Homo sapiens: one gene and its partner. The protein of the gene in region 2 interacts with the protein of the main gene of each other region in a pairwise test. Each region holds a gene or a part of one and is shown on either strand. Other genes may lie near its edges.

Region 1 (7,022 bases), about 79 Mb from region 2:
TTCTCGGGGCCCTGCCAAGTCCCAGGCCCAGACTTGGAGCTTCAAGCCGCCGAGGTGCCCCTACCGCCACCCCTCAGGCCCACTCCCCTAATGCCAGCTTGACTTCCTGGCCCTCCCAGGCCCAGCACACCCAGAAATCCAGCCTGGCTCCTGGGGCCTGCCCTCGATCAGGGGGTATGGGTGGGAGGCTATTTAGATTTTTTTTTTTTTTTTTTTTGAGACGGAGTCTCGCTCTGTCACCAGGCTGGAGTGCAGTGGCGTTATCTGGGCTCACTGCAACCTTTGCCTTCTAGTTCAAGTGATTCTCCTGCCTCAGCCTCCCGAGTAGCTGGGACTACAGGCACGTGCCACCACACCTGGCTAACTTTTGTATTTTTAGTAGAGATGGGGTTTCACCATGTTGGCCAGGATGGTCTTGATCTCTTGACCTCATGATCCGCCCACCTTGGCCTCCCAAAGTGCTGGGATTACAGGCATGAACCACCGTGCCCGGCAAAAAATATTTTTTAAATAAATGAATTATGTGGGGAATTTCCTGCAGGAGACACCCTATCTGGGTGTCCCTAAACAGGGGTGTGGGAGCTCAGGCATGGGGGCCGGGCTTTAAGCACCTTCCCAGACCCCAAGACCCTCTGTCAGCAGCAGCTGTGCCCCAAAGCCCAGGCTCACTGTGTAAATCCCAACCCCAGGAGCCCCAGGCCACACCAGACCCCCTCTGCAGGCCGCTGTGAGCATTCTCCATTGAGAAACATCTGCCCCACTAGACACCGGCCCCTCCCCCTGCAGCCTCCTGCCCCCATTAGCACCTGAATTGCAGCAAATGTGACCCAGAAACACCGCCTGGTGGATGCAGCCAGCGGGTGGAGCGTGGAGAGGGATGGGGTGGCCATGTGAACCCCTCACTCAGCCCCATTCCAAGGCCTGAAGTCCCGTCACCTTCCTCCAGCCTCCCTGGCGGCCCCCACTTTACAGATGGCACAACTGAGACTTGGGAGTGGAGGGCACAGGGCTCCTCCCATGGGGACCCTGGGAGCCACCAGAGGCCCCAGATGCTCCTGCCCCTCTGGGAACAGTCTTTCCCCAGACATTGCACTCCTCAAAGCTGCATTTTCAATTAACTGTGCCGCTGAGGGATGTGGCCTGGGTGCCAGCTGGGTGCCAGGTTTTGAGGGCTGGGCTGAGTCCTGCAGGCAGGGCCCGCTTCCCACCGGACACCTACCTGCCCAGCCCCAGGCAGCGAGGGAACCCTGCGTGCAGATGTGTAACTGCCATGAATGCGGTTTTGCAAGTTTTGCCACATCCAGCCCCTGACACAAACAGGGCTGATGAGGGCTGTGGAGACCAGGAGGGAAGCAGGGAGCTTCCTCCGGGTGGGGCTGCCTTGGGGCACAGGGGGCAGTAAGCTGGCCAACAGAAGCTGACTCATGCCCCCCAACCCCACCATACAGATGTGGAAACTAAGGCCAGAGGGACAGAGCAGCCTCCCACGTCCTGGGGTGAACACCACACAGGATCAGTGGCCTCCGCGACGGCTGGTAGGAGGGAAGTAGGCAAGGAGAGAGGGATGTACTCATCTGGATGGGATGGCCACTGCCTTCCCAGACTGTCCCAAGCTTGGGACATTCTGATCCCCCTGCAGTCCCCAGGAAGCGGAGCCTCAGAGTCCTCTGGCTTCTAGTCCCTCCTGCAGGCCCTGGGATGGCTCCTCATGGAGAAACCAGGTTCCCAGTCCCCGGCTGGGCACAGATGGTACCGGGATGGCTGAGGCCATGACCCTACCCCTGTGAGGGGCACAGCTCAAAGGGCTCTGGCCTCATCCCCTGATACCAACCACCATGGGGTTAATCCTGGGGTCGGTGAATTAGGGAAAGCCAGGTAGCCTCTGGGCAGCACAAGCCAGGAGCACTACTGTCCTATGGGTTAGGAGAGGCCCGGGGGAGTGGGTGCCAGACCGGGGCAGCATCACCTCCTACCCAGCTAGCCCGAAAGCTGGTGAACCGTGTGCACCCTCCCCATTGCACCGGTAAAGGGACAGATGCCCCTGCCAGCCCCAGGAGAGCACCTAGTCGCGCACACGGAGTCCCCAGGCACACCTCTGAAGGGGATACACGCTCATCCCTGTGGTGTAGTGTGGGGCTCCGACACGCCACCCCTACACTCCAGGCCGTGTACACACATCACACCGTGCCGGGCACGGGCGGCATCTGCACACCCGCCACATGTGTACGCGTTGATCACACACCAAACGCACCAGGGGGCTGCGCGTTCACACGCGCGCCAACGTGCCCGCAGGTCCGCCACCTCCCCGGTGCCCGGCCGACGCCGTGGCGCGGTGCGTGCGTAAACACAAATGCACATGGACGTGTGCGCACGCCGCCGACCGCCCACCAGGCACGCGGACCCTCGGACCACTCGCCCGGAGCGGCTCCGCCCTCCGGCCCAGCTCTGCCGAGGCCTGGGGCGTCCTCCTTCCGGCCGCCCGCCCGACTGTCCGTCTGCACCGCGGGGCCGCCCGGCCCTCGGCCGTTACCCGGACAAAAGGGGTGGGGGGGGTCCCCGTCTCGATCCCGGGGGACTCGCGGCCCCGCGGGGGCGGCGTATCCCCGACCGGTGGCCCGGTTCCCACCTCCGCCCGCCGCGAGCCCTTGGGATCCGGACGCCGGGCACCGCCGTCGGGAAAGCGGGTCGGGTCTGCGGCCCGGAGGGGGCGCACAGCCGGCACGCGTCCACGCCGTCCGCCCCCGCCCGGCGGCCACGCGGGACACACTCCGCCCGTGGCCCCGGCCCTCGCCCGGCTCCGGCGCCGCGCACCTCGAACTGCCAGTGGGCCGCCTGCAGCAGTTGCTTCGCCTGGTCGGCCGCGCAGCCCGCCGTCAGCACGAACTGGTTGATCATGACCTGGTGCTTGAGCTCGTCCATGTTCACGGACATGGCGCCGCCGCGCTGCCCGCTCCGGCCTCCCTCCTCCGCCCGCGCCTCCGCCTCACGCGTCCACCATTAGCGAGCCGGCTCCGGCTAATACAAATATTTACTGTGCGGCTCTGACTCACCGCGCCTCGCCTCGCTCCGCCGGCGCCGCGGCATGCTGGGATATGTAGTCCCCACGGTGCGCCGGGCGCCCCGGGGGAGCGGGGCCGGCACCCTAGGGGACGCGAAGCCCGGGAAGGGGCGTGTCTGAGCACCGAGCGCCCGCTGTGCGGATGTCCGGGCCGTAACCCGAGCCGGGCGCGTCCACGTCGTCCTCGTTGCTCTCGGTGGCACCCGTGCCCCTGCTCTGGCACGGATGGGGGTCCGCTGGCGGGGGCCACGTCTGTGCATGGGCGCAAATGCCTGACCACAGGATCTTGGCCAAGGCCTGGGGACCGTGTCTGAACTGTGAGCGCCTACTGTGTGTGGATGCCCGGGCCGTGACCAGGGTTGGGGGAGTCCACGTCGCCCTCGTTGCTCTGGGTGGCACCCGGCCCCTGCTCTGGCACGGATGGAGGTCCGCAGGCGGGGGCCTCAGGTTCGTGCATAGGCGTTTTTGCCAAGGCCCAGGAACGGTGTCTGAAAACTGAGTGCCTAATGTGTGCAGGCGCCTGAGCTGGGACCAGAGCCAGTCACGTCCACGTCGCCCTCGTTGCTCTCGGTGGCACCCACGCCCCTGCTCTGGCGGGAATTAGGAGCCCAGAGGCCGGGGCCACAGATCTGTGCATGGGCGCAAACGCCAGGCCACAGACGTCTTTGCCATGCCCCGGGGACTGTGACTGAACGCTAAGTGCCTACTGTGCGCAGCTGTCCAGACCGTGACCAGAGCCAGGCACGTCCATGTCGCCCTCATTGCTCTCGGTGGCACCCGTGCCCCTGCTCTGGCACGAATTGGGGTCCCAAGGTGGGGCATACAGATCTGTGCATGGGCGCAAACGCCGGGCCACAGGCGTCTTTGCTAAGACCTAGGGACCCTGAACCCCTCTGTGATTGGCATCGCTCTGTGTTAAATAGTAGGCACGCCCTTAAGAGAGGGGTCTCTAGGAATTTTGGCCCAAATCGGCTGGTCTAGGCTGAAAGGCCCGGCACACTGTAGGCGCCGACAAATACTCGTTCAGTGAATGAATGAATGAGCCACTTAAAAGCTCCGCCGCACGTCACCGCCTATAGCTAGCCTCCTAGCTCTCCTCACTCAATCTCTCATCGCCCACTCGTGGCATGGGTCCTTCCTAGCCTGGCTCTGGGCCTGCCCCACTGTAGCCCCATGACCCTCTGGACGGCGCCTGGGACAGGCTGGCGGGGCCAGCAGCCTCTGGTGCTTCGGGGTCCCCCTCCCAGCAGTTCTCCCGCTTTCCCACGCAAAATCTCGTGCTCTTTGCCGGAAATCTCGGCCCTTAGCGGGCGGGCGCCAAGGCCCGGCAGAGCCAGTTCCGGAGCGGCCCCAAACTCCCTTTCCCAGAATGCCTCGGTTTATTTGCATCGTTTGGTCCCGGTGACGTCAGCTGAGTGAGGTCGTGCCTCGACCAATGGACAGCCTCGGGGTGTTAGGACCTGGCCATATAAGGTAAACAAAGCTGGTCGCCCAATGAAGAGGCGGCGGGGGCGGGCGCTGGGCCGGGGAGGCCGGGGGCGGAGCCGGGGGCGGGGCGACCGGGCGGTGTTTACAGACCGGCACATGGCGCTTCCGGTTGACGTTGCTGACAGCTAGTGAGGCTTTAGCCCGCTTCGAGCGCCCGGGGGCGGTAAGGCGCGATCATAGCAGCTCTAGGTGACCTTGGTCCGGCTCCTTGCGCCCCCTGGCCCCAGCCTCCTTCGTTGAGACACTATTTGTTGAGTCTTTCCTCTTTTCCTGGCCCTGACCTAGCGTGGGGCGACAGAAGAGCAATAGCCGGGTGGGGGCTGTGAGAACGGCTGGGGTTGGGAGCGAATTTCGGAAACCCGGAGGACGAGTATAGCCTTGCAAGATGGAAAATGCCCTCCCGGGCTGGCGCGGTGGCCTGTAATCCCACCTACTCGGGGTCCGAGGAGGGAGGATTGCCTAGGCCCAGGACTTTGAGAACACGCCTCTACAGAGATTTACATTTTAAGAAAATTAGCTGAGTTCGGGTCGGGCGCAGTGGCTCACGCCTGTAATCCCAGCACTTTGGGAGGCCGAGGCTGGCGGATCACCTGAGGTCAGGAATTCGAGACCAGCCTGACCAAAACGGCGAAACCCGTTCTCTACTAAAAATACAAACACTAGCCGGGCGTGGTGGCAGTCGCCTGTAATCCCAGCTACTCCAGAAGCTGAGGCAGGAGAATCGCTTGAACCCAGGAGGCGGAGGTTGCAGTGAGCCGCGATCGCGCCACTGCCCTGCAGCCTGGGCCACAGAGCAAGACTCTGTCTCAAAAAAAAAAACCAAAAAACAAAGCAACAACAAAAAAACAGAGAATTAGCTGGGTTCCATGGCTCACACCTGTAAGTAATCTCAACACTTTAGGAGGCCGAGATGGGCGCGGATCACTAGAGTCCAGGAGTTTGCGACCAGTCTGGGCAACATAGTGAGACCCTCGTCTCTACAAAAAATAAAAAATAAAAAAAATTGGCCGGGCGCCGTGGCTCACGCTTGTAATCCTAGCGCTTTGGGAGGCCGAGGCGGGCAGATCCCTTGAGGTTAGGAGTTCCAGACCAGCCTGGTCAAACCGTCTCTACTAAAAATACAAAAATTAGCCGGACATGGTGGCACACGCCTGTAGTGCCAGCTACTGGGGAAGCTGAGGCAGGAGAATTGCTTGAACTCAGGAGGCGGAGGCTGCAGTGAGCTGAGATCGCGCCATTGCATTCCAGCCTAGACGACAGAGCAAGACTGTCTCAAGAAAAAAAAAAAAATTCTGGAGTCCCAGCTACAGATTGAGGTAGGAGGATTGCTTGAGCCTGGGAAGTCAGAGGCTGCAGTGAGCCGTGATTGTGCCTGGGGAACAGCGCAAGATCCTGTCTCCAAAAAATAAAAAATGCCCTAGGGAGGCCGGCACTGGCCCTGGGGGTGAGTTAGGGGATACTGAAATGTGTAAACAGATCTGATCCCTTGGACACGTTGGGATCACTGTGGCTGTGGCTGTGCTGGGATCAGATGGTGGTGGAGAGCTCCGGTCTGAACTAGGCGACGTTCTTGATGTGTCTGGTTCCAGGGGAGTCTGCCCTGCCTTCGGAATTGGATGGAATGGAGGGAATTGCCTCAAGCTGCGGCTCCTACCCGGGCCCCTCAAGCCTGACCAAGGACTCTCCCATTGGGTGGTGGGAGGAGGACAGTAGGGGAACTAGTGGACTGGACCTGAAATGTCCTGGGGTGGGAGGGTAGGGTGGTGGGGAAGGCTTGGGGCACTGAGATAGCGGAGAGGGCTGGGGAGGGAAGGGAGTCAGGGTGCAGTGGAGTTGGTCTCTGAGGGCTGGGGCTGGGAGCCTGGCCTATAGGCAAGGGGCGGACACTGAGTCTTGGCTTTTCCCAGGCAGGCACTTAGCCTCGGCAGAAGCCATCTGACCACGGGAAATACAGTTTAAAATTCTTTCCTGCTGTTTGCGGATCACTTAGGGGCCACAGTATTTTGTAAACCCTGATGGTTCCAAGAGATGTTTGCTCTTGCTAAGAGTTGCTCCTTAACCTTTGCAAAGCTCATATGCATGAATTAATATGGGCAAAGTGCTCCACAGGGTAGGCCCACAGTAAAAACCAGCTCTGAATATGATTCCCGCTATAATAATTACCACTAGGACGACAACACAGTGTGGTAGAAGGTGGGCAGGTTCGGGAGCTAGACAGACCTGGGTGTCAGGCTTGACTCCGCTGCTTAATGACTTAATGCTTAATGTTGAGCGAGTTACCAGAGCTCTGGGCTTCACTTTCTCACTGGCGGGGCTGAGTTCTGGCCTCACTGCTGTGGAAGATTAATGCCTGTAAAATGCAGAGTGCAGGGCCTGGTGCTATTTGCACGGTTCTAGTGCTCTCACCTGTTTGCCTCCATCTGGACCACTCTGGGAAGCCCTAGCCCTATTTTACAGATAAAACTGAGGCTGGAAT
Region 2 (7,015 bases):
CGCACACACACACACACACATATACACATACATATATATGTGTATATATGAGAAAACAACTACGTAGAACAAGGGAAGGGGAAGGGAATTAATAGGTTCAGCTACTAACAGTTACATGCACTGAATATAAGGCTGGGGTTTCTAGGTAAAGAAATGGAAGGGGCACAATAAAGCAATCACAGAAAGGCTCCTGAAGCCATTATGTCCAAACCATATGCAGAGGCAAAGATCAGACTGTCGTTATTCATTCTGTTTGATAAACACCTCTGGTCCACAGGACTTTTGGCCTAGCATTACAGTATGCAATGTTTTTTTCCCTTCTGTAAATAGCCTTGGTCAAAAAGCAAGGAAACTTGTGAATGTCTAAGGACTCAGCAGCCTCTGTATTTCCCAGGGGCCAGCTCCTTTCTCTCAACAGTCAAGTCTGGATGTGAGTGTCTTCAGTTGCCATGCAACGTGTTCCTTCCCAATGACGCGATAACCAAGAGTTTTCTTGAGTGGGGAAGAACAAAAGGATGTATTCCACAGCATCTCACAGAACCAGAGAATTCAGAATTGGACCGGATGTGAGAAATCAATGAGGGACAAAGCTGTCCAAATGTCTGATATGAGGACCCTCTCAGCTGGGCAGAAACCTTTCAAGTCCTTCATGGCTTTCTCTCAGGCTCAAAAATCTATGACTGAGTGTGGGGCAGACTCACCTCCACACAAATGCTGAATGATTAGTGTGTCAAGTGTGTCTTATGCCAGGACACCCAGGAATCTATTGCAATGATTCATTCATCATTCTGCTATGCAAGAAATTTAAAGACAAGTTTCCCAGTTTTCGAGGAGCTGATCATTTACATGGGGGGATGATATACTGCAAGTACTATGTCCAAGTGTGGATCAGAAAAACTCAGCTATTCAGACTAGGCTTGAGCCCAGAACATGATAATTCAACACAGTAAGAATTCATGACTGATTCTGTGTCATGCAATTAGCAACTGTGGGCTTTCTGTCTGAGAATCTTACGGCCAAAGATGCCTGGCCCTCAGTAACACTTAGCGCTGTAAATTAACCAGCTATCACGGGGAATCAAATCATGGCCACTGTTGTCACTCTTGACATTAATCCCATACTTAATTATGCCCAATTTTATGCATCTAAGTAGCCAAAAAAGAAAGTTTCTAATAAACATCTGATTAACGGTAAGACAGTGATATAAAGCGTAGTGCAAATAACCCTGGATTAGGGTGGGTGATCAGCAAGAGCTTTTCGCTCTGAATTTCAGGACAAGTAACACAACCTCAGCATGTTCTCCTTTACTGTAAAAGGGATACGTGTTATCACCCACGTAAGACTGAAGGAATGTAAACTATTAAACCAGTATTAGAGTTCTTAAATGGGTCAAGTCATAATCATTCAAGTGTTCAATTTTTTTTTAACACCAACTGCACATAACAAACTTCTGAATGTCCAAAACTTCCTGAAACATTTACGTCATTTTTCGTTCATTAAAAGGGCAGGTTAAGCCTGGGCCACATGGTGAAACGCCCTCTCTACAAAAAAAAAAAAAAAAAAAAAAAATTAGCCGGGCATGGTGGCCTGCACCTGTAGTCCCAGCTACTCAGGAGGCTGAGGTGGGAAGATTGCTTGAGCCTGGGGAAGTCGAGGCTGCAGTGAGCCGTGATAACACCACTGTACTCCAGTCTGGGCAACAAAAATAAAAATAAAAAAAGGGCAGGTTAGTTTTTCGCCGTATTTAATACTAACAGTATAAAAGAAGAGTATATGTTGCTCTAGGCCTTCTTTCGGGTCATAATCATTTAAATCTCAAAGTATGTGTCTGCATTTAACATGAATGAACTGTGCTAATGCCTGATTACCTCAAGTCAACTCAGAATCATCACATTAAGTACTGAACGCAGGGAGTTAAATGCCCTCCCAAAAGTCATGGAGCACAGACAAGGCCAGAAGCCATGGAGACTCCTGGGTGGTGGTGGTGACCTTGAGTCCTATTTACCTTTGTGCATTTCACAGGACTTCTCAGGACAATGTCTCACACATAGCGGGTGCCCAGTGAACTTCTGAAACACCATCCAGGGTCTCAGAAGGCTGCCTGATGCTCTAGTTCAGGTATACCATATAGATGAAACACTTCTCAGCTACAATAATTTCAAAAGACTGTAGAGCACACACTAATCAGGTACGAGAGGTGACAGCTACCTTAAAGACCACCAAGTGCTGAGTATTTAGTAAACACTATACAAGTGAGGACTTCAAGGACAGACTGGAGGAAGGCGGGGGTGTGCTCTGACGAGGCCAGGACTCAGACAGCGTGGGAAGGGGACACAGTTGGCAGGCGGTAACTGCGGGCGAAGTGAGCGTGCTATCGGGCAGGGAAGGCGGGGTGTGTGGGACTTGGAGGGGGCAAGTGAGGACTACTCGAGGAGGGCGGCCAGTCCGCGCTGCCGGGGGATCGACGGCGGCCCCTTACCCGGACGTCCGGCCCCTCCACCAGCTTGAGGGCCTGCGCCTCCAGCAGGTCGGCCCGCAGCTGCACCAGGAAGCGCACGCCGCCGTCCAGCTTGCTGATGTGGTGGAAGAGGCCGCGATAGCGCGGCACCAGCGCGTAGCGCAGCCGGTCCTCGGCCTGCAGCAGCACCGCCGCCTCCCGCTGCTGCTGGCGCAGATGGAGCACGCCGGCGCTCTGCTCCGCCACCTGGCCGTGGTCCACGCCGAAGCCCCGCGCCAGGCGGCCCAGCAGTTCGGCCCGCTGGGCCGTCTCGGCCAGCCCACCGTAGAAGCTCACGAAGTCCGCGCACTGACCCTCGGCGGGCGCCGGTGTCTTCTCGCGCAGCTCGTAGGCCGGCGTCGGCGGCACCGCGCGGCGCAGCAGCTCGTCCATGGCCCGCTCCAGGGCGCCGGCCGCCTGCCCGCTCGCCAGCCGGGGCCCGGGCGGCCGCGGGGGCAACCGCAGCGGGAGGAGACGCCTGGCCGTCAAGCCTGGCCCGAAGCCTCGCATGGTGCCCCACAACAGCTGCCGAGGGGGAGCGCCGCCGCCGCTGCCGCGCTTCCGGCTTCCGGCGCGCGCCGGCCCCATTGGCCGAGGCCGCGAGCCCGGCTGGGGACGCGGCCAATAGGAGGGCGGGGCGGTGGGGGCGAGGCGGCGGGGGCGGAGCGGCTCTGGCGGCGGCCGGAGGCCAAGTGTGGCTAAAGGTTACTGCCCCGCGGCTGGGCTGCCTCGGGGCCTGCTCCCGCGCGGCTGGCGGCTTGTACTCCGGTCCTAACACCTGACCGCCTAAAGGCACCGGCCCAGCCCCTCCTCTCTTTCCCGACTGCACTGCACAAGTGCCGCCTCCTCTCTAGATCCGAGCGCCTCCAGCCTCCCGGTGCATCAGAGTCACCTGGGAACTCCTGCACCGGAGGATTCCTGGGCTCCGAAATCAGAATCCTAGAGATTCAGATTCAGTGTGTCTGGGAGGAGCCAAGGAATATGCTTGCTTAAGAGGTGTTTGTGGCAATCCTCTGGCATGGTAGGTAGCCTTTGTTTGACCCCTGCCTAGGCACTCACCATTCGCGTCAGTGTCTTACACACATGACGCTCAGAGCCACAGAGGTTGGAGGGGTGTGTGAGTGTGTGTGGAGAGAGAGAGAATATGTCTATATGTATGGATGTATGTACACATACGCACGCATATACACATACATATGTATGTAAAAGAGACATGGAGACAGAGAGACTGATGGAAAGCCATACCCTTGAGCAAATGCCAGAATGAGACAAAGAGTTTTCTTTGAAATAGTTTTCAGATAATTGCAGTTATCAAGGCATATTTATTTTGTCCTCTAGAAAGATAGGCCTGAACTCTAGTTCCCCCTCCTTCCCCAATCCATTACAATCTGTAGAAGAGAATGTCACATACCAGCCATGTCTCCCACATGCAAAATTGCAGGAGGCATTAGGAACACAGTGGGATTTTGTTCCACTCTGATGGAAATATGGCATCTTTGGTTGGAGGGTGAGGGAGCCATGTACTTGGTTGACTATGTCTAGGTGCTAGGATTTCTATAGGTAGAACCCTTTGGTGCAGGTCTTGCAGTATAAAAGACACCTGGAGGTAGTTCTGTATGAGGACAGCCTTTGCTGGGTGTGTCTCATCTTATGGGGCACGAAGAAAGTACGTTTGGCTCATTCTGCCAAGACACAGACACACAAAACATTCTGAAAGCCTAGTGGTGGCTTTTGAGGACACCTCTCCATTCCTCTTTTCTAAGAAGTGGTGAAACCATATTGCCAGCTGGCTAAGGGAGTTGGTGGGGTCCAAACTCTGGTGTTTGTCTCTTTGCCTTGTCGAGTGAGCTTTTGTCTGTCCTAGGATACTCCTGCCTTGCTTTAGGAATCTTGTCTTGAAAGCTTGACTTTGCTTAAGCATTTGCTAAGTGTAGTACTCCCACAACCCTGTTCTTTCTCATCTTTCCCGGTGCCTTCCTTTTTATGTAATTTCTGGCTTCTGTTTTTTTTTTCTCTGTGTTTATACTTTTTTCTCTAGGCGTCAACAGCCATCCTCTGCTTTTTCCCACTCATGTCCTTATTTCAAAAGACTGCCCCAATCCAAAAATGAAATTAAAGAAACAATTCTATTTACAACAACATCTGAAGGGATAAAAGAAACATGTTTAACCAAGGAAGTGTGAGACTGGTAGATGGAAAACCACAGAACAGTATTGAAGGAAATTAAAGAAGACCTAAACAAATGGAATGGTCCATGCATGGTTCATGGATTGGAAGATGTAATATTGTTAATATAGCTCATATGGTTTGGATCTGTGTCCAACCAAATCTCATGTCTAGTTGTAATCCTCAGTGTTGGAGGTGGCGCCTGGTAAGAAATGATTGGATCATAGGGGCAGAGTTCTCATAAATGGGTTAGCACCATCCCCGCTTGGTACCCTACAGTGAGTTCTCAGGAGATCCGGTTGTTTAGAAGTGTGCATCACCACCCCCTCTCTCCTGCTCTGGCTATGTGAAGCTCCTCACTCCCCCTTTGCCTTCCGCCATGAATGGAAGCCTCCTGAGGCCTCTCCAGAAGCAGAAGCCACTACGTCTTCTGTACAGCTTGTGGAACCATAATCCGATTAAACCTCTTTTCTTTATGAATTACCCAGTCTCGTGTATTTCTTTATAGCAGCGTGAGAATAGACTAATACAATGGCAATACTCCCAAAATTAACCTACAGATCTAATACAATCCCTATTAAAATTTCACTGCCCTTTTTTTTTTTGCAGAAATAGAAAAACATATTCTAATATTTATATAGAAATGCTAGGGGCCCTGAGTGGCCAAAACAATCTTTAAAAAGAACAAACTTACTACAAAGCCACAGTAATCAAAATAATGTGGTATTGGCAGAAAGATAAAACACAAAAATCAATAGAATAAAATTGAACATTCAGAAATAAACCCATCTATGGTCAATTGATTTTTTTTTTTTTTTTTGAGACAGAGTCTCACTCTGTCACTCAGGCTGGAGTGCAGTGGCATGGTCTCGGCTCACTGCAACCTCTGCCTCCCAGGTTCAAGTAATTCTCCTGCCTCAGCCTCCTGAGTAGCTGGGACTACAGGTGTGTGCCACCACACCCAGCTAATTTTTGTATTTTTAGTAGAGACAGGGTTTCACTAAGTTGGCGAGGCTGGTCTCGAACTCCTGACCTCGTGATCCGCCCACCTTGGCCTCCCAAAGTGCTGGGATTACAGGCGTGAGCCACCGTGACCAGCCTGGTCAATTCATTTTTGACAAGGGTTCTAAGACCATTCAGTGGGTAAAAGTGAGTCTTTTCAACAAATGGGACGGGGACAACTAGACATCTACAAGCAAAACAACAAACATGGACCCCTACCTACCTCACAGCCAATAGAAGAATTAACCCAAAATGGATCCAAGACCTAAATGTAAGAGCTAAGACTATAAAATCCTTAGAAGGGAAAATAGGTGTAAATCTTCAGGACTTTGGAATAGCAATTATTTCTTAAATATGACGTCACAAGTGCAAACAACAAAAGAATAATAGATAACTTGGACCTCATCAAAATGAGAAACTTTTATATATTGAAGGACACCATCAATAAAGTAAAAAGATGAGCCACAGAGTGGGAGAAATATTTGAAAATCATATATCTGATAAGGGTCTTTATGTGGATTATATAAAGAATTGTGGCCGGGCATGGTGGCTCACGCCTGTAATCCCAGCACTTTGGGAGGCCAAGGCAGGCGGATCACAAAGTCAGGAGATCGCGACCATCCTGGCTAACACGGTGAAACCCCGTCTCCACTAAAAATACAAAAAATTAGCCGGGGGTGGTGGCCGGCGCCTGTAGTCCCAGCTACTCAGGAGGCTGAGGAAGGAGAATTGCGTGAACCCGGGAGGGTGAGCTTGCAGTGAGCCAGATCGCGCCACTGCACTCCAGCCTGGGCAACAGAGCGAGACTCTGTTTAAAAAAAAAAAAAAAAAAAGAATTCCTACCACTAAACAATAAAAAGACAAACAACCTAATTAAAAATGGACAGAAGATTAGAATAGACATCTCTCCAAAAAATATATATATGTGTGTGTATATATATATATGTGTATGTATATATATATGTGTGTGTGTGTATATGTATGTATGTGTATGTGTAAATATATATGGCCAGTAAGTGCATAAAAAGATGCTCAACGTCATTAGTCGTTAGGGAAATGTAATCAAAGCCACGAGTTACCACTTCACATCCACTAGGATGGCAATAATAATAACAACAGAATAACTGGTGAGAATGTACAGAAATTAGAACCCTCATACTCCGCTGATGAGAATGCTAAATGATACAGCCACTGTGGAAATCAGTTTGGCAGTGCCTCAAAAAGTCAAAGAGAATTGCCATAGAGCCCAGTAATTCCACTCCTAGGTACCCAAGAGAATTGTGAACATACATTCACACAAAAACGTGTGCACACATTTTCCTAATATGTAACTTAAAATAGCAAAAAGTA

Evidence for each region. Proteins that work in one complex are often made in the same cells at the same time.
Region 1: the proteins of MLYCD (region 2) and UBALD1 interact in binary tests that used the Homo sapiens proteins (3 or more experiments, as listed by UniProt).

The regions. Positions count from the first base shown.
Region 1 is NC_000016.10:4,611,867-4,618,888, forward strand, and holds the start of UBALD1 (UBA-like domain-containing protein 1), read right to left. Parts: upstream 3,023-7,022; 5' UTR 2,932-3,022; coding exon 2,812-2,931; coding exon of another isoform or gene 2,627-2,811; intron 1-2,626.
Region 2 is NC_000016.10:83,895,137-83,902,151, reverse strand, and holds the start of MLYCD (malonyl-CoA decarboxylase, mitochondrial), read right to left. Parts: upstream 3,038-7,015; 5' UTR 3,008-3,037; coding exon 2,480-3,007; intron 1-2,479. UniProt on the Homo sapiens protein: Catalyzes the conversion of malonyl-CoA to acetyl-CoA.